Linked DNA regions of Homo sapiens: all the other regions are linked to region 1. Evidence: fine-mapped expression QTL. A gene starts in region 1. Each other region holds a variant in brackets. All regions are shown on one strand. Distances are from middle to middle.

Region 1 (5,835 bases):
TTCCTAAGAAATGAAACTGTAACATTTAGAAATACTAGGAATAAGGCAGAACAATAGGTGTAAAACATCTAACAAAGTGAAATTAAAAGACAGTGATACAGGGGTTGTAAATGTCTTCATGACGCTTATAAAATGCACACAAGGATAAAACAGAAATACAAAGGCTGGGCGCAGTGGCTCACGCCTGTAATCCCAGCATTTTGAGAGGCTGAGGTGGGTGGATCACCTGAGGTCAGGAGTTCGGGACCAGCCTGGCCAACATGGTGAAACCCCGTCTCTACTAAAAATACAAAAATCAGGTGGGCATGGTGGCAGGCAAATCACTTGAACCCGGGAGGTGGAGGCTGCAGTGAGCCGAGATCGCAACACTGCACTCTAGTCTGGGTGACAGAGCAGAACTCTGTCTCAAAATAAAAAAAAGAAAAGTAGATGTTATTATCACTTCAAGGTGATAACTTATCCTATCTTATACAGGATGGCACAGCCTTAACTCAAACCCGGAAAAGCCAGACTGCAATTACTGTGCTCTTAACTACTTCACCTTACAACACACTGTGTGAAACTGGATAATGTTAATATGTAACTGAGAGCTTGCTTTTGGTGTACTTATTACAATAAATCAGGCTTCCCAGCCACTGACTGAACATTGTGGATTGGGCCTCAATTTGCTTACCCACAAAATGGAGAAAATAGAATCTTCCGTTTATTCAACCAATATTTATTAAGTACCCATCGTGTGCCAGGCACTATTTTAGGATAATGGAAGATTAAGTGAAAAAATGCAAAATGGTAAATCCACTTTCCCACTACCTTAATCCCTTGCATTTATTTGTAAGGTACAGTGGTTTTATTTATTAAGTATCATTTGATGAATACTATGGAACTAACATAATTCAAGCAAAATTTTGCATTCAATTTCGGCAGATTCACAAACCTCCTAAAGTCCACATATTGCCCTCCATTAAAGTTAAAAACTGTTGCAAAGGGACTTAAACCATTCTGTCATATTGGAAACTCCTTTGGCATTTCCAGCCCACCTAACACAGCAGAGACGAGGGTACTATTATTCATGTGTTACAGACAACTAGAATCGTATATAATCATTGCAGTTTCACAAATAGATCAGGATAAGAATGCCTTTTCCAACTGTCACAGCAGAAGACTCTTCAATTCCGGGGTTAGAAAAGAGAAGTAGGAAGGGGGCCACCAGACTTCTCTTCTGAAAAGAAGGTGAATGACAGACAGCCCAGCAGTTAGGAGCTCATCTGAAAAAAAGATCTGGGTAGGAGCCCAGACTGCTTAGTCACGAAAAGCGACCTAAGACACGTCCCTCCCTGGGCGCAATTTACGTCCGTAAAATGGGGTAATAACCTCTGCTCCGCCTTCCCTGTAGTGGTTCCTACACTATAGCTCAAAGAACGAAACAAGTAGAGTGCTTTACAAATGCAGATGGAGGGAAAGTCATCACTGAGCATCAGGGTGCGGAGGGCAGGAATGCTCCTGCTTCTAGGCTGTTGGCTTCCGCCTTCCCCCCTGCAAACTCAGTTCCCTGCAGCGCGGGAAGCCTTTTAGGAATCGGAGTGTGGAACAGAGGAACGCTCTTAACAGTTCAGAACAGTGCCTGGCACTGAACAGGCGCTTGGTACATGTCAGCTAAAAGAATCAATGACTGAGTCTACAGAGAACGTCCTCAGTTTCAGAGGTTCCGATGCGCCCTCCCCCGAGTCCCTCGCAGCCCGCTGGACGCCACACTCACCCGGCTCCAAAGCTTCCTCCGGCTAGCCGCAAGCCCTCCGTTTCCTACCGCCTCCACTTCGAGAGCTCCGGGGGATGCGGCACCTCTAACCTGCACCAGCAGGGCTCCTTCTACAACTACGGGCCGAAAGCCAGGACCAAAGCGTGTGTCTCACTAGAAATGAAAAGAAGGTGGAAGGAGAAAAGAAAACTTCGCGCCAATCGGCGTGGCCCCGCCCCCAGACCGTCCCTTCGTTGCGACACCAACTAGCTCGCCCCGCCCACTCCGTACACCTAAGAGGGGCGCATGACGTACATCCGCTAACATGCAGCCGCCATCATTGATTCGATAGGCGACGCGGGGAGCGGAAGCCCTTTACACTACGGTGTTTCCGGCTTCAAGATGGTCGCCTAAGCTGTTTAGTGAAACTTCTTCCACCTTTCTCCATTCCTCTAGGTGCTTTTTCTGAACCTGGATGTGAGGCATTAAAGGATCCGACGGAAATAGAATTGAAGGCATTCTAAAATGGCTAACCGTACAGTGAAGGATGCGCACAGCATCCATGGCACCAACCCTCAATATCTGGTGGAGAAGATCATTCGAACGCGAATCTATGAGTCCAAGTACTGGAAAGAGGAGTGCTTTGGACTTACAGGTAAGTGGAAGCGCGCGGAGCGCCTCTCAGCCCCCTTGTGGCCCATTTCTCCTGACCGAGCGCGGGTAGGACTAGCGACTGGCCTCTGGGGGTGGTACTGGAACGGAGTATGTCGATCATTCAGAAAAATTTTGAGTGCCTGCTAAGTGCCTCGTCTTGTGTTGAGTATTAGAGGCACAGATGAATCTGGTAAGGTCATATTCTGAAGGCTGTCTCAGTTGGGTGTTGTGAGTTATTCCGTATTTAATGATAGCAGGCTGGGTTGCAACAGTGTTAAGCTCAGGGATCCGGATATAACACTTTGACACAATCTGTTGAAGGTCTTTAAGGACCTAACGTTAATATGCCTGAAACCAAATTCATGATCTTACTATTCTTAGATCTGGGCCGGTTCCAGTATTTATAAATATCAGTGCTTCAGAGAAGTCTTCCAGGTAATCTTCCGATTTGAATTGTGGCTTTAAATCCATGTCCTGTGACAATCTGTGGACCTTGAGCAAGTCACTTTACCTTTCTTAGCCCTCATTTTCCTTACCTGGAAATAAGAACATTGCTAGAACTTTCTTCATGACTTGTTAAAAAAGGTTAAGTGAGATAATATGAAAAGCTTAGCAGGGTACCTATTTTATTATCCATTCTCAATGTATATTAGCTGTTGTCGTTACTGTTATTAATACACATTCGTTCTCCTAATATTACACTGTTGATGTATATTTAGGAGAACCAAAGCTTGAACTAACTCCACTCCAACTAGGAAGAGCTTAGCCCTAATATGTTACTGTATTGTTTTTGTTTTTTAGCTGAACTTGTAGTCGATAAAGCCATGGAGTTAAGGTTTGTGGGTGGCGTCTATGGTGGCAACATAAAACCAACACCCTTTCTGTGTTTAACCTTGAAGATGCTTCAAATTCAACCCGAGAAGGATATCATTGTAGAGTTTATCAAAAATGAAGATTTCAAGTGAGTGCAATGTTCACTAGCTAATATAAGAGGTTTAATTTTGGCGGTTTAGAATTGGGCTTTGGTTAAGAGGGGTGTACACAATGTATCTCATTTCTAGAGAGTTCCACTCCAGATTTTTGCTTTTGAGCCCTTGAGTTTGTATTTTTTGTTTGTTTTTTGTTTTGGAAACAGAGTCTCTCTGTGTTGCCCAGGCTGGAGTGCAGTGGTGCGATCTCGGCCCACTGCAACCCCCATTTCCTGGGTTCAAGTGATTCTCCTGTCTCAGCCTCCCGAGTAGCTGGGATTACAGGCATGTGCCATCACGCCTGGCTAATTTTTGTATTTTTAGTAGAGATGGGGTTTCACCATGTTGGCCAGGCTGGTCTCGAACTCCAGACTTCAGGTAATCCCCTCCCCCCCCGGGCCTCCCAGAGTGCTGGGATTACAGGCATGAGCCACCACACCCTGCCAAGTTTGTATTTTATCTGTTCTGATTGTATTAATCTTCTACTTTACTTTCTCAGTTTTGGTAATTTTTCCCTGAAAAAGGATTTCACAGATTCACTAAATACATATTAAGCAAAAGTGAGTGCCTGATATGTTGGTAGGCACTGGACGCTCAGGGGTGAAAATCAAACAACAAAAGGTGGTGGTTAAGAGGTGTAAGATCTGGGTTCACATCCAGATTCTGTTGCCCATTAACTATGACATTGGAGAGGTTACTTAATTTTCTAAACTTTGCTTATCTGTAAAATGGTGACTATAATATAAGAGTGAAAGAACGTAATGCATGCAGATCTCTGAACACAGCACTTGCTGCATGGTAAACACCTAGAAAATGTCAGCTTATTACCGTATTACCGATTCTCGAGGAAATCACAAACAAGTATAGGAGACAGACATAATAGCTTCTTATGTGCCATGCTGTAAGGGCTTTGCATATAATAATTCATTTCACTTTCACAACAACCTTCTAAACTTTTAATCCCTATTCTACAGGAGAGGAAACTGAGGCACAGAGATTAATTAATTTTGCCCAAGTTCAAACAGCTAGTAAGTGGCAAATCTGGCTTCAGAGTTCATATTCTTTGCTACAGTATTCTGCTTCTCGTACAAAGAAACTATGACTTTCAAAAGCCTCCTAGTTACCCAAGAGGAAATTTAAGTAGTTAGATATAGGAAAAAGGGAAGAGGAACAACTCTTTTTTTTGTTTGAGACAGAGTCTCGCTCTGTTGCCCAGGCTGGAGTGCAGTGGCGCAGTCTCGGCTCACTGCAAGCTCGGCCTCCTGGGTTCATGCCATTCTCCTGCCTCAGCCTCCCAAGTAGCTGGGACTACAGGCGCCCACCACTACACCCGGCTAATTTTTTGTATTTTTACTAGAGACGGCATTTCACCGCGTTAGCCAGGATGGTCCCGATCTCCTGACCCGGTGACCCACCTGCCTCGCCTCCCAAAGTGCTGGGATTAGAGGCGTGAGCCACCGCCCCTGGCTGGAACGACTCTAATAAAGCATTAACAGCTAGAAAATACCTAACTTTTGTTAGGCACTTACTGTGTGCTCTGTGCTATACTTAGCACTTTCAATGCATTTCTTGTTTATATACCAAGCCATAAATTAGGTAGCATTATCTCCGTTTTACAAGGATTGAGAAAACACATGATTTGACCAGTAGTGTCACAGACTTAGTAAATTACGGAGTCAGAATTTGAACCCAGATGACTTACTTTTTTCCAAAACCAGCAGTCATGTTTATGTGTACTTGTTCTTGTATTGTTATTAAATATATCTTCTTTCTGTTTTAAAATTCAATATATGGCCAGGTGTGGTGGCTCACACCTGTAATCCCAGCACTTTGGGAGGCCAAGGCAGGTGGATTGCTTGAGGTCAGGAGTTCAAGACCAGCCTGGCCAACATGGGGAAACCCCGTCTCTACTAAAAATACAAAAATATGCCAGGCATGGTTGCTAACACCTGTAATCCCAGCACTTTGGGAGGCCAAGGCAGGCAGATCACCTGAGGTCAGGAGTTTGAGACTAGCCTGGCCAACATGGCAAAACCGGTCCCTACTAAAAATACAAAAATTAGGCTGGGTGTGTTGGCACATGCCTATAATCCCAGCTACTTGGGAGGCTGAGGCAGGAGAATCGCTTGAACCCAGGAGGTGGAGGCTGCAGTGAATTGAGATCGTGCCACTGCACTCCAGCCTGGGCAACAGAGCAAGATTCTGTCTCAAGAAATAAATAAATACATAAATAAAAATACAAAAATTAGCTGGGCATGGTGGCGGGCGCCTGTAATCCTCGCTACATGGAGGCTGAGGCATGAGAATTGCTTGATCCCAGGAGGCGGAGGTTGCAGTGAGCCAAGATCGTGCCACTGCACTGCAGCCTGGGCAACAGAGCAAGACTCTGCCTTAAAAAATAAAATAAAATTCAGTATTTCTTTTGATTCTTAGAGTAATCCTGTGAGGTAAATAGGTTTTATTCTAGTTTTACTGATG
Region 2 (5,835 bases), 210 kb after region 1:
CTTGCAGTGAGCAGAGATCGTGCCACTGCACTCCAGCCTGTGCACTCTAGCCTGGGCGACAGAGCAAGACTCCGTCTCAATAATAATAATAATAATAAAAATAAAAAAATAAAAATACAAAAATTAGCCTGGCATGACCGGGCACAGTGGCTCATGCCTGTAATCCCAGCACTTTGGGAGGCTGAGGCGGGTGGATCACCTGAGGTCAGGAGTTTGAGACCAGCCTGGCCAACATGGTGAAACCCCGTCTCTACAAAAATATAAAAATTAGTCGGGCATGATGGCAGGTGCCTGTAATCCCAGCTACTCTGGAGGCTGAGGCAGGAGAATCGCTTGAATCCGGGAGGCAGAGGTTGCTGTGAGCGGAGATAACGCCACTGCATTCTAGCCTGGGCAGCAGAGAGAGACTCTGTCTCAAAAAAAAAAAAAATTCACTGAGTAATCCACTAGCCAAAAGTACACCTCAATAACAAATAGGCAAAGGAGATGAATAGATAGTTCACGGAAGACTATAGATGCGTAATAAGGATACAAAAAGATGTCCAGCCTCATTGAAGTTGGAAAGTTTTTTGTTTGTTTGTTTTGTTTTTGTGATGGAGTCTAGCTCTGTCACCCAGGCTGGAGTGCAGTGGCACAGTCTCGGCTCACTGCAAGCTCTGCCTCCCAAGTTCACGCCATTCTGCCTCAGCCTCCCGAGTAGCTGGGACTACAGGCGCCCACCACCACGCTCAGCTAATTTTTTTTTTTTTGTATTTTTAGTAGAGGCGGGGTTTCATCATGTTAGCCAGGATGGTCTCAATCTCCTGACCCAGTGATCCGCCCGCCTCGGCCTCCCAAAGTGCTGGGATTACAGGCGTGAGCCACTATTCCCGGCCGAAAGATATTTTTTTAATGATAATACCCCTGGTTGGCAGGGATGTGAGGAAATGGGCATTCACATAAACTGTGGTACGATAAACTGGCACAAGTGTTTGGAGGGTGATTTGGCAATATCTTTTAAAACAAAATGCTCATACCTTTTGTTTTTGCTTTTTGTTTTGAGACAGGGTCACACTCTGTTGCCCAGGCTGAAGAAGAGTGGCTCGATCGTAGCTTACTGCATCCTTAGCCTCCTGAGTAACTAGGACTGCAGGCACACGCCACCATGCAACATAGTGGGACCCCACCTCTACAAAAAAATATTAGCTGGCCATGGCAGTGCATGCCTGTAGTCCCAGCTATCAGGAGGCTGAGGTGAGAGAATTGCTAGAGCCTGGGAGGTCAAGGCTGCAGCGAACCGTAACCATGCCACTGCACTCAGCCTGGGTGACAGAGGAGACCTTGCCTCAAATTATAAACTAATATGGTTATTAAAATGAATGAATGAAGTCTCCATATGCTACCATAGAAAGTTGTCCAAAAGTGAAAAAATGATAAGTTGTAAAACAGAATGAACACATTCACATACCCAGAAAAACCAGTATGAACAAGTGTAATGTTTTTATTAAAAATGTACAATGTTGCTGGGTGCATTAGGTGGCTCACGCCTGTAATCCCAGCACTTTGGGAGGCAGAGGTGGGAGGATTGCTTGAGCCCAGGAGTTCAAGACCAGTCTGGGCAACATGGCAAGACCGTGTCTCTGCAAAAAAATTTAAAAATTAGCCAGGCGTGGTCACTCACACCTGTAGTCCCAGCTACTCAGGAGGCTGAGGCAGGAGGATTGTTTGAGCCCAGGAGGTTGAGGCTGCAGTGAGCCGTGTTTGCGCCACTGTACTCCAGCCTGGGCAATGGGAGTGGACCCTGTCCCAAATTTTTAAAAAATTTACAATGTTAAGTGGGAGGGAAAGAGAGAGGGAAAAATATAGACCAAACTCTTAATGGTGGTTGTCTGCGAGGGGCTGAGGTAGGATAACAGGAGTCATTTTCATTAAGTTTCTGTAATGTTTGAATTTTGTATGTCAAATCCATATTTCACCTTTATATAAATGTGGAAAGGTGGCTAAAAATTGGGGTGCAGCCTGGGAAACACAGTGAGACTTCATCTCTACAAAAAATCAAAAAATTAGCCAGGTGTGATGGTGCACACCTATAGTCCCAGCTACTCAGGAGGCTGAGTGAGGAGAGTCACTGGAGCCTGGGAGTTTGAGGCTGCAGTGAGCTATGATCACGCCACTGCACTCCAACCTGAGCAACAGACCAAAATACTATAAAAAAAATGGGGTGATGGGCAGAGTCACTGGTAGATAATTCATTGGCCAATAAGAATTTCAGGTGTACTTTATCTAAGGTCACTCTTCTAGAAGTCTGGAGACTCAGATTCAAGTTCCTGTTGTGCCCCTGACTCACAGCAAATTCTTCCCTCTCTCCTGTCCTCCGTTTTCTCACTGGACAATGAAAGGGTTAAACCGTGCTTAGGATTTTCACAGTCTCCCTTCATGGTGCTTCTCAAAAGCTAACAAAAGTAAAGTGAAGGCTGTCCATGGGGTGACCACAGCCCCTCCTATGGTGGCCTCTCAGCTGCCCTTACACACCCTCCTCTTAGCTGCAGCTCTGCATGTACTTGTGTGCATGCACACACACACAGTGAAGCCCAGCTTGCACACATGTTCACACTGGACATCTGGGAACCACAGTCTCCTGCAGCTACCTTCCTC[C/G]CTCCATACCCACTGTCTCCACCACCCGTATGTATGCCTCCCCTCACTGTGCCCACCAAGGCCATCACTTAGTGCCTTATCGTTAAAGCCAATGAATATCTCTCACCTTGTCTTCCTTGACCTCTCAGCTGCATGTGACACTGCAGACTCTGCTCTTCTCCCTGGCACTTGCTCGGTCCTTGGCGTTCCTCTGTCTTCTCTTAGTTTCCCCCATCTCTCTAAGTGTTCCTTCGTTCTCAGTGTCAATGTCTCTCCCTTCTCTATCCACCCCTTCCCTGTTGGTCTTCCATGGGGTTCTAGTCTGATCTAGTTTCTCACCCCATATACCGTTCTGTAGCCAGCTCATTTTTTCCCATGGTTTTGACCACCATCTACACCCTGCTGACACCCAAATCTCTATATCCATGCAGGACTCCCATCCACCTGCCTCCTGGGCATCTCTACAGATACCTCAATTCAACATGGCCAGAACTAAATTCACCCTCATCTTTCCCCAACACATCTGCTCTCCCTTCCATTCTGCCTTGGCAGCCCCTGGAGCTTTCTCTTTCACACACCACTTACTTATCACACTCTATTCCCATCACTTAAGAAACTGCCCTCCCTTCCCTCTCCTGAGCACAGTGCTAGGCCCTTAATAGATGAAATTAAATTATGTCATAAGCCTTTGGAGTACCAACTCCATGCCTGCTCCTGCCTAAGCCCTATCTGGAAACCAAAGATGAGCAAGCCCATTTCCTCAGAAATTTAGAGTCCGTCTGAGGACCTTACGCTCCCAATTAGCCCTGTGTTTCTGTGGACTTTATCAGCTTCTGCTGTTCCCAACCCCCCTCTAATACATGCAAGAGTCCCCTAGGAAAAAGTTACTTTAAATCCTTATCAACAGTCACCTTAGTCATTGGTTAACCAGTATCTGCTAAGATCTTGGTTTTAAATTAATCCCTTGGTTATCAAATAACACTTGAGTAGTTAATATTTGATTATCTACTAACACCACCTTAGTTATCTTCTAACACCTTATTTACAAGCCAAATACTTTATTTATTCAGTTATATCTTAGGATTTAGTAGTTTAAAAGTATTTGCTATGTCTTAGTTATTAATCAAATTTTCTTTTTTTTTTTTTTTTTTTTTAACAAGGTCTTACTCTCTCACCCAGGCTGGAGTGCAGTGGTGCAATCACAGTTCACTGCAGCCTCAACCTCCTAGGCTCAGGCAATCCTCCCACCTCAGCCTCCTGAGTAGCTGGGACCACAGATGCTCACCACCATGTCTGGCTAATTTTTGTATTTTTTGTAGAGATGGGTTTTTGCCATGTTGCCTAAGCTGGTCTTGAACTCCTGGGCTCAAGTGATCTGCTCTCCTTGGCCTCCTAAAGTGCTAGGATTACAGGTGTGAGCCACCACGCCCAGCCTTAATCAATATTTTAGTTACCTGATCCCTTAGCTCTCTGCTGAGTTTAGAGTAGATTAGCAAGTCAGAAACCATCAGTTAGGAGTTTGGGGAAGAGGTCATTTCTGAATATGGAAAAATACAGGCCTTTGTCTTTTACTGAGCTCTCCTCTTACCCCCAAACGATTCTCTTTCAACATCAACTGGCCCCAGGTCCTGAGAGAAAAGGAGGTCCCATCCTAATTGCTTATTTGTTTCTCTGAGCCAGGCTGTAGGGGACTTCCTGGAATGTTGTGATTGGCAGGGACTTTCATTCATCAACAAATGTTTCTTGAGCACTGCATATCTGTCAAGTTCTCCCTAAGTTCTAACTGTACATCAGCAAACAAAATGGGCATGTTCCCAGCTGCTATGGCTCTTAGAGAACAGTGGAAAAGATAAACATTAAACAAATAGTTATTCTGATTATTATGTGATTACAATTATGATAAGCACAGGGATTATGATAAGTACAGGGAGCTGTGAGTGTGTATAAAAGTGGCACTTGACCTATTGTGGGATTCAGAGACTTCCTTGAGGAATGACATTAAAGCTGAAAGCTGAAATTTTAATAAGAGTTAGGGAAAAAATGGTAAGGAAGTCCTAAGCAGATAGAGTGGCTTGGGCAAAAGCCTAAAGGAAGGAAAAGGCTGATATGATAGAGCTAGTGCTGCCTGGAGCCACATGATAAGGAGAAGGACCAGAGAAGTAGGCAGATGCCAGATCATGCAGGGCCTTGTGGAATCTAAGTGAGAAATGATGTGACCTGGCCTAGCATGAAGCGTCTGTCTTCTATTGGTATAAGAAGATCTTCCTTAGAGTCCCAAATCTGACGGCCAGAAATAAACCCTGGGGCAGAGGCAGTCATTGAACCACTGGTAGAAGAAGGCTGCAGCTGAATGCAGTGGCTCACGCCTGTAATTCCAACACTTTGGAAGGCTGAGGAGGGTGGATTACCTGAGTTCAGGAGTTCGAGACCAGCCTGACCAACATGGCAAAACCCTGTCTCTACTAAAAATACAAATATTAACCGGGGGCAGTGGCTTGTGCCTGTAGTCCCAGCTACTGGGGAGGCTGAGGCAGGAAAATCGCTTTAACCTGGGAGGCGGAGGTTGCAGTGAGCCCAGATTTCACCACTGCACTCCAGCCTGGGCAAGAGTGAGGCTCCATCTCAAAAAAAAAAAAAAAAAGGAGTAGGCTGTTCTGCTTTGGGGGCTGCCTGGAGGACAGGTCACCACGGAGACACCTGTGAAAAGCAAGCAGCCCTGAAATTCCCCAGCTCTCTAGCTGAGCCAGCCAAGGGGTAGCTGAGAAGATTGCCAAGACTGGAGTCCCTACTAACCACCTGCTTTCACGGATTCCTGGACACCCCTGGAGTGATTACATTGCAGATAGTCCATTTTTTTTTTTTTTTTTTTTTGAGACAGAGTCTCGATCTGTCGCCCAGGCTAGAGTGCAGTGGTGCAGTCTTGGCTCATTGCAACCTCTGCCTCCCCAGTTCAAGTGATTCTCATGCCTCAGCCTCCCAAGTAGCTGGGACCACAAGCACATGCCACCACGCCCAGCTACCTTGTTTTTGTTTTTGTTTGAGACGTAGTTTTAGTCTTGTTGCCCAGGCTGGAGTGCAATGGCGCTATCTTGGCTCACTGCAACCTCCGCCTCCTGGGTTCAAGCGGATTCTCCTGCCTCAGCCTCTCAAATAGCTGGGATTACAGGCATGGGCCACCACACCAGGCTAATTTTGTATTTTTAGCTGAGATGGGGTTTCACC
Region 3 (5,835 bases), 58 kb after region 1:
TATTCAAGCTATATAATACTGAAAGTTTCTTTTTTAAAAGCTCAGATAAACAAAACTGAGACAAAATTTTTCACAAATCTGACATTAGTTATGTTTCATTTTAATTATCATGAACAAAGCAGATCATTAATTTTTTCATAAATACCTTAGCAAACACTTTCATAGTATATCCCAAATACTGCACTCTAGGATCAATAGCTGCATAAGTAGCTAGCATTCTTGTGTTATGTTGAGCCTGAAAAATAATTACATATTTGAAAGGATTTCAAATTTCGTAAAATTAAACTACAAATCAGATTTAAAAGTAAAATACACTCCAAATACAAAATATATAAATGTAAAATGTAAAACACCTATTAATGAGTCAAACAAAAACTGACCTTCAATCTGAAGGAACTATCAAGATAACTAGTAAAATACTTTTTCCTTATACTGTTCACATTTGAAAGTTTTAAACATAGAGTCAGTAATCTGTAAACTTTTAAAATGAAAAGTATATACATGGCCTATAAAGATAAACTTACCAACGTATTATATAAACTGATATCGCCTTCTAACCCACTTCGCCTGTGTTCAAATTTTACTATAGGCACTTTGGCAGTAGTTATAGGCAAAATGTTTCTTAAACCTAATTTAAAAAAAAAAGACTTCAGTAGGTTAAATAATTTTCATATATGCTAAAAAAATTTATTTTGTTTTACAGATAAGATTCAAAATTCATACCTGGATGTCTCTTAAGAATTTTTGCCAAATTTTCAATTATTTCCTTACAATTTAATTTCTAAAAAACAAATCAAATAAATAAGTTTGACTCAATTTCACCTTGTGCAAATTCTACTTTAATCTAAGCATTTAATAGTAGCATTTACAATTTCCAGCCATAAAGCTCTATAATAACCTTGCTACTCCAAGTAAGTGATTCATAGACCTACAGTATCAGCATAATCTGGAAACTTGATAGAAATGCAGAATCTGAGGACCCTCCCCAGTCTACTAAATCATAATCTGCATTTTAACAGGATCCCAAGGTAATTCACATGCAGATTAAAGTTTGAGAAGCACAAAGACAGGAGAAGAATATGGTTTTCAATAAGTGAATAAACAACTAGAGGTGAGTTTGGTGAGGGCAAAACAATATACTGATTAAGTACATAGGCTCCAAATTGAGACAAACCTGGATTCAAATCTTTTTTTTTTTTTTTTTTTTCTTTTTTTGAGACGGAGTCTTGCTCTTTCGCCCAGGCCGGAGTGCAGTGGTGCTATCTCGGCTCACTGCAAGCTCTGCCTCCCGGGTTCATGCCATTCTCCTGTCTCAGCCTCCCGAGTTGCTGGGACTACAGGCACCCGCCACCGTGCCCGGCTAATTTTTTTGTATTTTTAGTAGAGACCAGGTTTCACCGTGTTCACCAGGATGGTCTCGATCTCCTGACCTCGTGATCCGCCCGCCTCAGCCTCCCAAAGTGCTGGGATTACAGGCGTGAGCCACTGCACCCAGTCTCAAATCTTAAACTAAGTATTGATTAGCTGTGTGACTAACCAGATGTTTAACCTCTCTGAGCATTACATTACTATTCTATAAAATCAAGATAATCATAAACTCCTGTCCTGCAGAGCTGTTGGGAGGATTACATGAGACATGTATGTAAAGCACTCAGCAGAATGCCTGGCACAAAATAAGCCTTTAAATCTGTGAGTTATTTATTATAATTATGTTGATATGGAAAAGAAAGATACTCCTATTATCACCAGCACCTATTTCTCCAAGGAAATTCTTACCTCTGTAAATTTAAATGTGTTACTCTTGTAAAAACCAGAGACAGCAGAGTTGGTATGGTAATGATAATCATAATACATAATGATTATGGCATTAAAAATTAACTGGAAATAGCTGAAGGGTATAAACATCAATCCCAAGAGTTATAAAGTCATTTGCATTTTTCCAACATGTTCTTTTTAGCTACATGAGAGCAGGAGCCATTGCAGCTAAACCAAAGGATTTCAAAGAAACCATTAGTTACTAATTCACATATGATAAAATTAACAAAGGAGGTAATTTTTCTCTTTATTATTCAACGATACAATTATGCTAATCTTAAAAGTTTCAATTATGGCTCATCTGAAAGAAAATGATTTATTATTTTCATTGTTTCAACTTCCCAGTAGGAATGGCACAGATTATATATAATATACAAACCCTTAGTGATTAGAAGTTTAATAAATTTTACATAGAAGATATCTAAAACTCTAACCTCTTTCCTGGGTATAAAAATCATTTCCTATTCCCTCAATTCTTACTCTTCAGAATGGAGAAGGGCAGCCACTTTCCAAGTAGGTGGCTCTAAGCAGAATTTAAGTAAAGGAGAACAAATAAAATACTTGCAACTTTTCAGTTTCTTTATAAAACAAGATGTTAAGACACCAGAAGCAACTTCTTATGGCCAGAAGTTAAGTCATCACTGCCATCTTTACTCCGGGTCTAACAATTTCAAAACCACCGTTCAAAAGAATGATTTTAGAAAAGCACACTATTCTGCTGAATTCTTTTATAATGTAACAGAGGCGATACTGACACCACTACAGATGCCAGAAGCTGGGCCTCACCCCAATCTTGCAAACAGTCCCGCATTTTGAAACATAAATAACAATAGCTAGGCTGGTAAAGGACTGAACATCTACAA[G/A]GATACCCTCCTTTGCTAGTTGCTGTTGAGAAGGCCTGGGACACTTCTTCCCTGTCCAATCAGTCTTTTTCTTCCCTGGAGCTTGGACAATCTCCTTCCCACTATTAAGGCCTGGTATACAAAAAAGGAAAGCGTAAGTACCCACTCTTACTGCTGAAATTGCACTTGGGGAAGGTCTGCTCCTGGCATCTCACGGTGGAACTCAGAAAGCTATCAGTTTCAGAAAGCAGTGGTTAGGTTCTACAGTACTATTAGTACTATATTTCAGCTACATTATGGGTTAAAAAAATTACAGAGAGGCAGTGAGATACAATGGAAAGAGCATGAACTCTGGAGTCAGACAGACCTGGGTTACGAATCCCGGCTCCAACAATTACTAGCTGTGTGAACTTGGACAAGTCAGTTTATCTTTCAAAGCCTCAGTTTCCTCATCTGTAAAATGGGGGAAATAATACCTACCTCGAAGGTGGTTGTAAGAATGAAATGAGATAATGTATGTAAAAGTGTATACTGGGAACTCAATAAATGTTAGTTCTCCTCCCCGCCCAAAATGAGTTTCTAAAAGCTATCTTAGCATTTTATTTATTTATTTTTTTTTTAATTTTCTGAGACGGAGTCTCACTCTGTCACCAGGCTGGAGTGCAGTGGCGTGACCTCGGCTCACTGCAACCTCCGCCTCCTGGGTTCAAGCGATTCTCCTGCCTCAGCCTCCTGAGTAGCTGGGACTACAGGCGCGTGCCACCATGCCCAGCTAATTTTTTTTATTTTTCGTAGAGACGGGGTTTCACCATGTTGGCCAGGAGTGTCTTGATCTCTTGACCTCATGATCCGCCCACCTTGGCCTCCCAAAGTGCTGGGATTACAGGCATGAGCTACCACGCCCAGCCCTTAGCATATCATCTGTAACATTGCTTCTATGGAAAAAATTTTATGTGAGTGGTCAAAAATTATAACTAACTTTTAGAACAAAACCAATTATAAATTAGATGACCACCTATATTTACTACCTATAGTAACACAAAGACATCATCTAATGAAAGAGATATGAGAAGACAAAGTATGAAAGATCAATGTTCACTACAAAACTGATGCATCAGCTTCCCATTGGTTCTAGTGAAAAAATTCCAACTTCGTGATATATTTTTTCCCAAAATTCATTACAAATCACTGTAACTCTCAGTGACATGGTTTTTGTATCATAAAATTACTGAAACACTTTTACTTAAGAGTTCAATGTCTTCTAAACTGAAAATGCTACTGTTTTCATATTTCAAACACTTATTTTGCTAATATATTTATACAAAGAGTGATACCACATTTTTATCAATATCACATACAAAAATAAACATAGAATCGTCATTGGGAGAAAATAAACTTACATAACGCTTTCCAAACACTCTTACCTCTGCATTTTCATGGCCTTCCAGGGTCATACAAATATCCAGATCACTATCACGAAATCCAAATCCATTCTTAGAAGAGCCAAATAAGCACAACCTTGCCTTTTCTAAGCAAAGGAAAACAAAGTCCAAGGCCTTATTATAAGCAGAGAGGAGGAGTCTTCTGCTATCTGCTGATGACCTAATACAACATGCTCTTGTCCATTTCTATGATTTAAATTACCTACCACTGGAAGAAATACTGAGAAATTCCAAAACATCTTGAGCCCAAGCTTTTGCCCAAGTTCCCATACCCATGTACCCAACTGCTTTTTCCAATTTTCCACAGACATCATACATTCAACACGTCTGAACTATCAACTTTGCCCCAAATCTATTACTATTTCTATTATCCCTGTTCTTAGCAAATAGTACCATCATGTACACAGATGCCCACATCAGAAATACAGGTGCAATCCTTAATATCTGTCTCTCAATGTCCACATCCAAACAATCATTGAGACTTTTAGCTTTTTCCGACTTACATAATAAATCCATCTGCTTTTATACATTCTCAACATCACTACCAATAGTTAAGATCAATATTTGAGGACTGCCCTCTTAAAAATAAATTAGTTCTTTCAAAGCACAATTCATGTAGGTTTACAAATATCACCTTAGTATACGATGCTCTTCCAAAAATGAGTGATTATAGTCCACTTGATATAAATTATGATAGGGTTAACCCTTCAGACTCAGTGTCATCCAATAACAGCTACCATTTCAAATAAGCTGTGGTTTAACAGAATTGGATTTTTCTTCCTATTACTTTTTTTTTTTTAGAGACAGGGTCTTGCTATATTGCCCAGGCTAGAGTGCACTGGCTATTCACAGGCACAATCATTATACACTACAGTCTTGAACTCCTTGCCTCAAGCAATACTCCCACCTCAACCTCCCAAGTGGCTGAGATAACAGGTGTGTGCCACTGGGCCTGGCTCTTCCTATTAATTCTAAAGTAGACTACACATTTATAGGACACTTTATACTTTCAAAACTTCATACCCCCATCCAGTTCTGATGCTCTACTTGAAATTTCAATGATAGCTGAGAGGCAAAAAAGAAGCTATACTCATCAGCAAATAAAACTGAGCATGATTTTATATAATAGAGACTTAGATTTGGTCAATACTTTATATACTCCTATAATCCCAGCGCTTCAGGAAGCCAACCAATGTGGGAGGATCGTTTGAGACCAGGCTGGGCAACATGGTGAGACTTTGTCTTTACAAAAATTTTTTAAGATAAAAAAGAAGGCGAGGTGCGGTGGCTCATGCCTGTAATCCTAGAATTCTGGGAAGCTGAGGTGGGTGGATCACTTGAGTTCAGGAGTTTGAGACCTGCTTGGAAAACATGGTGAGACTCCATCTCTACAAAAAATAATGTGCTGGGTGTGGTGGCGCGCACCTGTGGTCCCAGCTACTCAGGAGACTAAGGTAGGAGGATCGCTTGAGCCTCAGAGGTCAAGGCTGAAGTGAACCCTGATCACATGATTGCACCACTGCAGTTGAGCCCGGGTGACAGAGTAATATCCTATTTCAAAAAAAAAAAAAAATATATATATATATATATATATATTTTTGAGACAGAGTTTCGCTCTTGTCGCCCAGGCTGGAGTGCAAAGGCATGACCTTGGCTCACTGCAACCTCTGCCTCCCAGGTTCAAGTGATTCTCCTGCCTCAGCCTGAGTAGCTGGGACTACAGGCGTGTGCCACCA
Region 4 (5,835 bases), 170 kb after region 1:
CCTCTGATTGGTTGCCTTCTGCAACCAATCAGATTAATCACAGGCCACTTCTTCATTTACATAGGGTGTACCTCAAGTAACCAATGGGAAGCCTCTAGAGGGTATTTAAATCCCAGAAAATTGGGTAACCAGTTTCCTGAACCCATATGCTTGGCCTGCTCCCACACTATGGAGTGTACTTTCGTTTTCAGTAAATCTCTGCTTTTCTTGCTTCATTCTTTCCTTGCTTTATTTGTGTGTTTTGTCCAATTTTTTCAAGAAGCCAAGAATCTGGGCACCTTCCACTGGTAACAGAATTGCTGGGATTACAGGCATGAGCCACTGTGCCCAGCCAGTTTTTATTCTTAAATATTCATAATTATGTGCTAAGGGATGTATGTGCCTGTTTAGCAATTCCCTTCTCAAACTTTGGGATCTCATCGTATGCTGCTACAGTCATTTATTGTTCCACAGTGATTTTCACTTGGTACTTGCTTTTTATTACAGCAACCTCTGAAAACTCAGCTTCAAAAAGACATGACATCATCCAGAGACATGTTTAAACCTTGAACTCAAGCTTGTGTGGTATCAGACATATATTGAATCTCCCTCTCCCCTCTCCCCTCTCCCTTCTCCCCTCTCCCTTCTCCCTCTCTCTTTAACATGGAGTCTCGCTGTCTCACCCAGGCTGGAGTGCAGTGGCGCGATTACAGCTCACTACAACCTCTACCTTCTAGGTTCAAACCATTCTCATGCCTTGGCCTCCCAAGTAGCTGGAGTTACAGGTGTGCGCCAACATGCCCAACTGATTTTTGTAGAGACGGGATTTTGCCTTGTTGTCTAGGCTGGTCTGGAACTCCTAGCCTCAAGTGATGCACCCTCCTGGGTCTCCCAAAGTGCTGGGATTACAGGCATGAGGCACTGCGCCCAGCTTGTATTTCTCCTAAAATGTCAAAATATCCTCTAGAGCCCTCAGTTAGCTAGGGCACCCCAGGGCTCCTCAAAAGACAATTTGGGAAACACACGTATAAAAGGGAAATCCCCTAACAAACCCTCAGGATATTAACACAGAACATCACAGAATCACAAATAGTGGTCATGATACTAACTTTCTCACCTGCATTAACCAGCCCCAGTTCCAGGCTGTCTTGGGGGAAGTAAAATGATAGGAGAAAATGGCCCTATTTGATGCTAAAATATTTGCAGAGAGCAGGCCTAAAAAGGACACCCCACAGGAGAAAAGTTCACGGGAAGAAAAGCAGAAGCCCTAGGCTGAACAGAAAGGAGAAAAAGGCGGCTGACCCTGCTCCTGAGGAGATGGATGAATGTGAGCAGGCACTGGCTGCTGAGCATCGGATAGCCAAGACCCCTTTGCTCACTTGCCCGAGTACCTTTGTGATGGATGAATTTAAGCACAAGTACTCCTATAAGGACACAATGTGGTGCTGCCGTATTTTCGGGAGCACTCTGATAAGGATGGTTGGTCTGAGTATTGCTTTCCTGAGAAGCTCACCCAGACCTTCTGGAGTTGCAATCTCATCGCTGGAATGTTCCAGCAGTTGAACAAACTGAGAAAGAATGCCTTTGCCAGTGCCATCCTCTTTGGAAGCAACAATATCAGCTCCATTTCTGGAGCCTGGGTCTTCACAGGCCTTGACACTGAGTCCAGATTGGCAGGTGGTCTTCGAGTCATACACGTGGCAGAAACTGGATCCTGGCAGCAAGGAGACCCAGACACTGGTTTGTGAGTACTGTTCCTGGAAAAGGGCCTTCCAGCATGTGGGCTAACTTCAGTCAGGGCAAGATCTTCAAGTAAACAGCTCTTGCCATTGCCTTGCTTCCTGTACCTGTTCTTTAAGGAGATGGGGATCATTAAAAGAAACTGAATATTGAAAAAAAAAAAGTTTAATTTAAGGTCAGTTTTTTCCATTTATGACGACTGAGAAATACCAAGTGCCTACTTAACAAGATTGCCATCCAACATTATTAAAATTTAAAATAAAAATATTGGGCCGGGAGTGGTGGCTCACACCTGTAATCCCAGCACTTTGGAAGGCCAAGGAGGAAGGATTGCTTGAGGCCAGGAGTTCAACACAAGCCTAGGCAGCAAAACAAGATTCTGTCTCTACAAAAAAATATTAAAAATTAGCTGGGCATGGTGATGCATGCCTATAGTCGTAGCTACTCGGGAGGATGAGATAGGAGGCTCGCTTGAGCCCAGGAGTTTGAGGCTGCAGTGAGCTATGACTGCGCCACTGCACTCCAGCCTGGGAAATAGCGTAAGACCCTCACTCTAAAAAATAAAGGAATAAATAAAAGTATTGTACTTTTAGCTACACTAAAAACTTCACAAGGTCATTGTCAGGCCCCATCCTTTCCTCAAAGAACACAGACCTTAGAGTCACATAGATTTGGATTCAAATTTAGACCCACTGCTTTCCACGATCTTGAGCAAGTCTCTCAATCTTTCAGATCACCTTCTCATAAAAAATGTAGACCATAATTCTCACCTCTTAAGTTCTTATGGAAAGTGAAAGAACATATAAAAAGTGCCTAGCACAGACCCTGGCACATAACAGGTGCTCAAGACCCCCTTGCCATTTCCTAAACATGCCTTAGACTTGCATCCTACTAAACCTTTGCAACATGGTGCTTCCTTGGCCTGATAAACCATACTGCTTTTGTCTGCTGCCAAACTCTGTTCATTCTGCGTCACCCAACTTAAATACATTCTTCTCTCTGAAGCTTCCCTTGGCTTCTTTGGAGAGAATGAGTCACTCTGTCTTGTTCAGTTCTGCAGGATTTACCACTATCGCCTCACTTGATCACATTGTGTTGTAATTGCTTATTTATGAATCTTCTCCCTCACCAGATTTTATGGTCCTCCTCCATGGCTGAAGCCACATATTTTCACAGCACCTAGCATGGTACTTGGCCCTCAATAAATGTTTCAATGAATGGAGGAATAATAATAGCAAACAGTCAGTGCTTAATTCTAGGCATTATTCCAAGTGCTTTACAAATATTATTAACTTGTTTAATCTTCATGACAATTCTATGAATTATTATCATTTCTCTCTTACAGATGAGGAAAATGGCACATAGAAAAGTTATGTAATTTGTCTAAGGTCACTCAGCTATTAACTGTCAAAGCCAGGATTCAAACCCAAGCAGTTGGTGTGAGTCCAGACTTTTAGCCAACACACTACAATGCCTCCCAGTGAACAAAGGAATGAACAATCACAAACAAATTTGCTTTTCCCAAATGTCTTTCTTTCTCAGGTTTTGGA[A/G]TGGCTCATCCATTCATTTAACAAACACTTTACATAGAGTTTTCTATGTGTATAATTATCACACTAAACACCAATCTCTGTTTTCCTCACCCCGGCCACACCCCACTTCACACAATCTTCACTGCTTGCCCCTAACCTCGACTGCTCTGTGAATTTCTTTGTTTTGTTTTGCTGGAGACAGGGTCTCACCCTGTCACTCAGGTTGGAGAGTAGTGGCATGATCATAGTTCACTGTAGCCTGGAACTCCTGGGCTCAAATGAGCCTCCTGCCTCAGCCTCCAGCCTCCAGCCTGAGTACGTAGGACTTCAGGTGCCCATCATCACACCTGGCTAATTTTTAATATGTTTTTGGAGAGATAAAATCTAGCTATGTTGCCCAGGCTGGTCTCAAACTCCTGGACTCAAGCAATCCTCCCACTTCAGCCTCCCAAAGTGTTGGGATTATAGGCATGAGCCACCGTGCCCAGTCCTCTTTCAGTTTCTGGAATGTGTTGTGCTCTCTCCCACCTCTGACCCATGACTGCCACATTGACTAACTAACTTGTACTTTTTCTTCAATTCTCAGCTTAAATTGCTTCCTTCTGAAAGACTTCCATTTGCCCCCTAAAGAAAGTTAGGTACACCTGCTCTGGGCTTCCCATGGCACTTGACACTTTCCTCATCATAACATTTTTCATACATACTCTTCTTGCCCATTTGCTTGTCAACCTTCTGCACTAGACTATAAGCTCTACAAGAGCAAGAACTGAGTCTATCCAGGTCGTCACTGAATCTGCAGCACCTAGCCTGATGTCTGGCATATAGTAGGTACCTGACACATATTTATCGAATGACAGATTGAAGCATGAGCAAGACAAAATCTCTATGCTTAAGTCTAGTGGGAGGCCAGGCACTATTCATTCCTATAATCCCAGTGCTTTGGGAGGCCCAGGCAAGAGGATCACTTGAGGCCAAAGGTTCAAGACCAGCCTGGGCAACATAGCAAGACCCCATCTCTACAAAAATAAATAAATTAGCTGGCATGGTGGTGTGTGGTTGTAGTCTTAGCTATTCAGGGGGCTGAGGTGGGAGGATCTCTTGAGCCCATGAGTAATTACAGTAAGCTATGATTGTGCCCCTGCACCCCAGTCTGGGCAATAGAGCAAGACCCTTTTTCTTAAAAAATAAAAAAATACAGAACTCTATTGGGGGAAATAAAAGCCTAGAGGGGATACAGGAAAATAAACACTTGTAGTATATTGTGATAAGTGCTATAATAGAGATCCCAGGGTCCTTCAGGGACATAGAGGGAAAGATTTCTAACTCTACTTGAGGTAAAGTGGAAGGGGGAAAGCTCACCAGAGTCTTAAAGGATAAGTGAGAGTTGAAAAGAAAGAAGTAGTATTAGCCAGGCGCAGTGGCTTATGCCTATAATCCCAACACTTTGGGAGGCCGAGGTGGACGGATCACTGAAGTCAGGAGTTCGAGACCAGCCTGGCCAACGTGGTAAAATCCCATCTCTATGAAAAATACAAAAATTAGCCGGGCGTGGTGGCACATGCCTGTAGTCCCAGCTACTCAGGAGGCTGAGGCACGAGAATTGCTTGAAGCTGGGAGGCAGAGGTTGTAGTGAGCCGAGATCACACCACTACACTCCAACCTGGACCACAGAGTGAGACTCCATCTCAAAAAAAAAAAAAAAAAGAAAAAGAAAGATGTAGTATAGAGGCAAAAAGCAAGAGCAAGAACTGTAATAGAAATTGCTTTTTAGCCTAAATGGCTAAATCATTTTTCTGTGTGTCTAAAAGTAACATTAATCTAAACTTAGTCTTACAATTGGCTTGTTTAGTAAGAATTTGGAAGCAATGTGAAATAACTTAAAAGGCAATTGATGGAATAATGTTATTTCTTAATTATCACTCCTATAAATTCCCATGAAAATCAGTTCTTTATTATCATATTTATCATGCTGCACTACCATTGTCAAAATGTGTCTATCCTACCTGATTGTGAGCTATTTAAGGCCTTGGATTAAAGAGCATTAAGATCTGATTCGATTCTATGTATTCCTCATACTGAGAACAAAGCCAGGCCCAGAGGATCTGTGAATACTCCAGCATGACCACAAAGTCCTAAATGAACTGACCTCCAACAAGCTCTGTTTCTTCTTGCGTCCCATACTCTGTGCTTCAGTCAATATTAAACACCCTTCAGTTCCCTGGACAAAATTTGGCTGCTTAAAGCCTCTAGGCCTTCACACATGCCGACTTCCATTGTCTTCCCACCCATTTCCCAGCGCTTATCTAACTAACTTCTACTCAGCTTTCAGCTTAAACATTACTTCTGAAGGAAGCTTTCTTTGACCTGAAGACACAATTAGACCTTCCTATTATATGGCCTTTAATGCCTTATATTTTTCTTTGGTGTCATTTATCATACTTGTAAATACTTACTCATTCTCTGTCCTTTAGATAGTAAGTTTCATAATTCAGCACTTGGACTAGAGCATATAAGACAGATGCTCAATAAAAATTATTTTGAATAAGTTACTGAAAAAATGAATAAAGTGCTACTATGTGTTTTTAAG

Direction of the effects. Alleles are on the strand shown, and positions count from the first base shown. SD is a standard deviation of normalised expression in the study named. Not every link is listed here.
For the expression in monocytes of the gene that starts at base 2,113 in region 1, C is the low allele of the variant in region 2 and G is the other (moderate effect, 0.72 SD a copy in Fairfax 2014).
As copies of G replace A in region 4, the expression in atrial appendage of the gene that starts at base 2,113 in region 1 goes up (small effect, 0.29 SD a copy in GTEx).

The links. PIP is the estimated chance that this variant, and not a neighbour inherited with it, causes the effect. A credible set is the group of variants that fine-mapping cannot tell apart.
Region 2: its variant is the best candidate, but not a certain one, in a credible set for the expression of PRPF38A in monocytes (Fairfax 2014, PIP 0.70).
Region 3: its variant is the best candidate, but not a certain one, in a credible set for the expression of PRPF38A in whole blood (INTERVAL, PIP 0.55).
Region 4: its variant is the best candidate, but not a certain one, in a credible set for the expression of PRPF38A in atrial appendage (GTEx, PIP 0.90).

What each region holds. Positions count from the first base shown.
Region 1 is chr1:52,402,490-52,408,324 of GRCh38, forward strand. PRPF38A (pre-mRNA processing factor 38A) reads left to right here and starts at 2,113. Exons shown (of 10, transcript NM_032864.4): 1 at 2,113-2,390; 2 at 3,191-3,350. The coding sequence starts at 2,261. It overlaps ORC1 (origin recognition complex subunit 1), which reads right to left and starts at 1,934. Exons shown (of 17, transcript NM_004153.4): 1 at 1,757-1,934. RefSeq lists an enhancer at 1,433-2,632.
Region 2 is chr1:52,609,510-52,615,344 of GRCh38, forward strand. No RefSeq gene overlaps it. Among named protein-coding and RNA genes, the nearest start is that of GPX7, 10 kb to the left of the region's middle. The variant C/G (reference allele first, on the strand shown) is at 2,635.
Region 3 is chr1:52,460,989-52,466,823 of GRCh38, forward strand. It overlaps TUT4 (terminal uridylyl transferase 4), which reads right to left. Exons shown (of 30, transcript NM_001009881.3): 16 at 4,082-4,185; 17 at 724-781; 18 at 525-628; 19 at 146-235. Among named protein-coding and RNA genes, the nearest start is that of PRPF38A, 59 kb to the left of the region's middle. The variant G/A (reference allele first, on the strand shown) is at 2,679.
Region 4 is chr1:52,572,027-52,577,861 of GRCh38, forward strand. It overlaps the pseudogene EEF1GP7. Among named protein-coding and RNA genes, the nearest start is that of TUT4, 22 kb to the left of the region's middle. The variant A/G (reference allele first, on the strand shown) is at 3,270.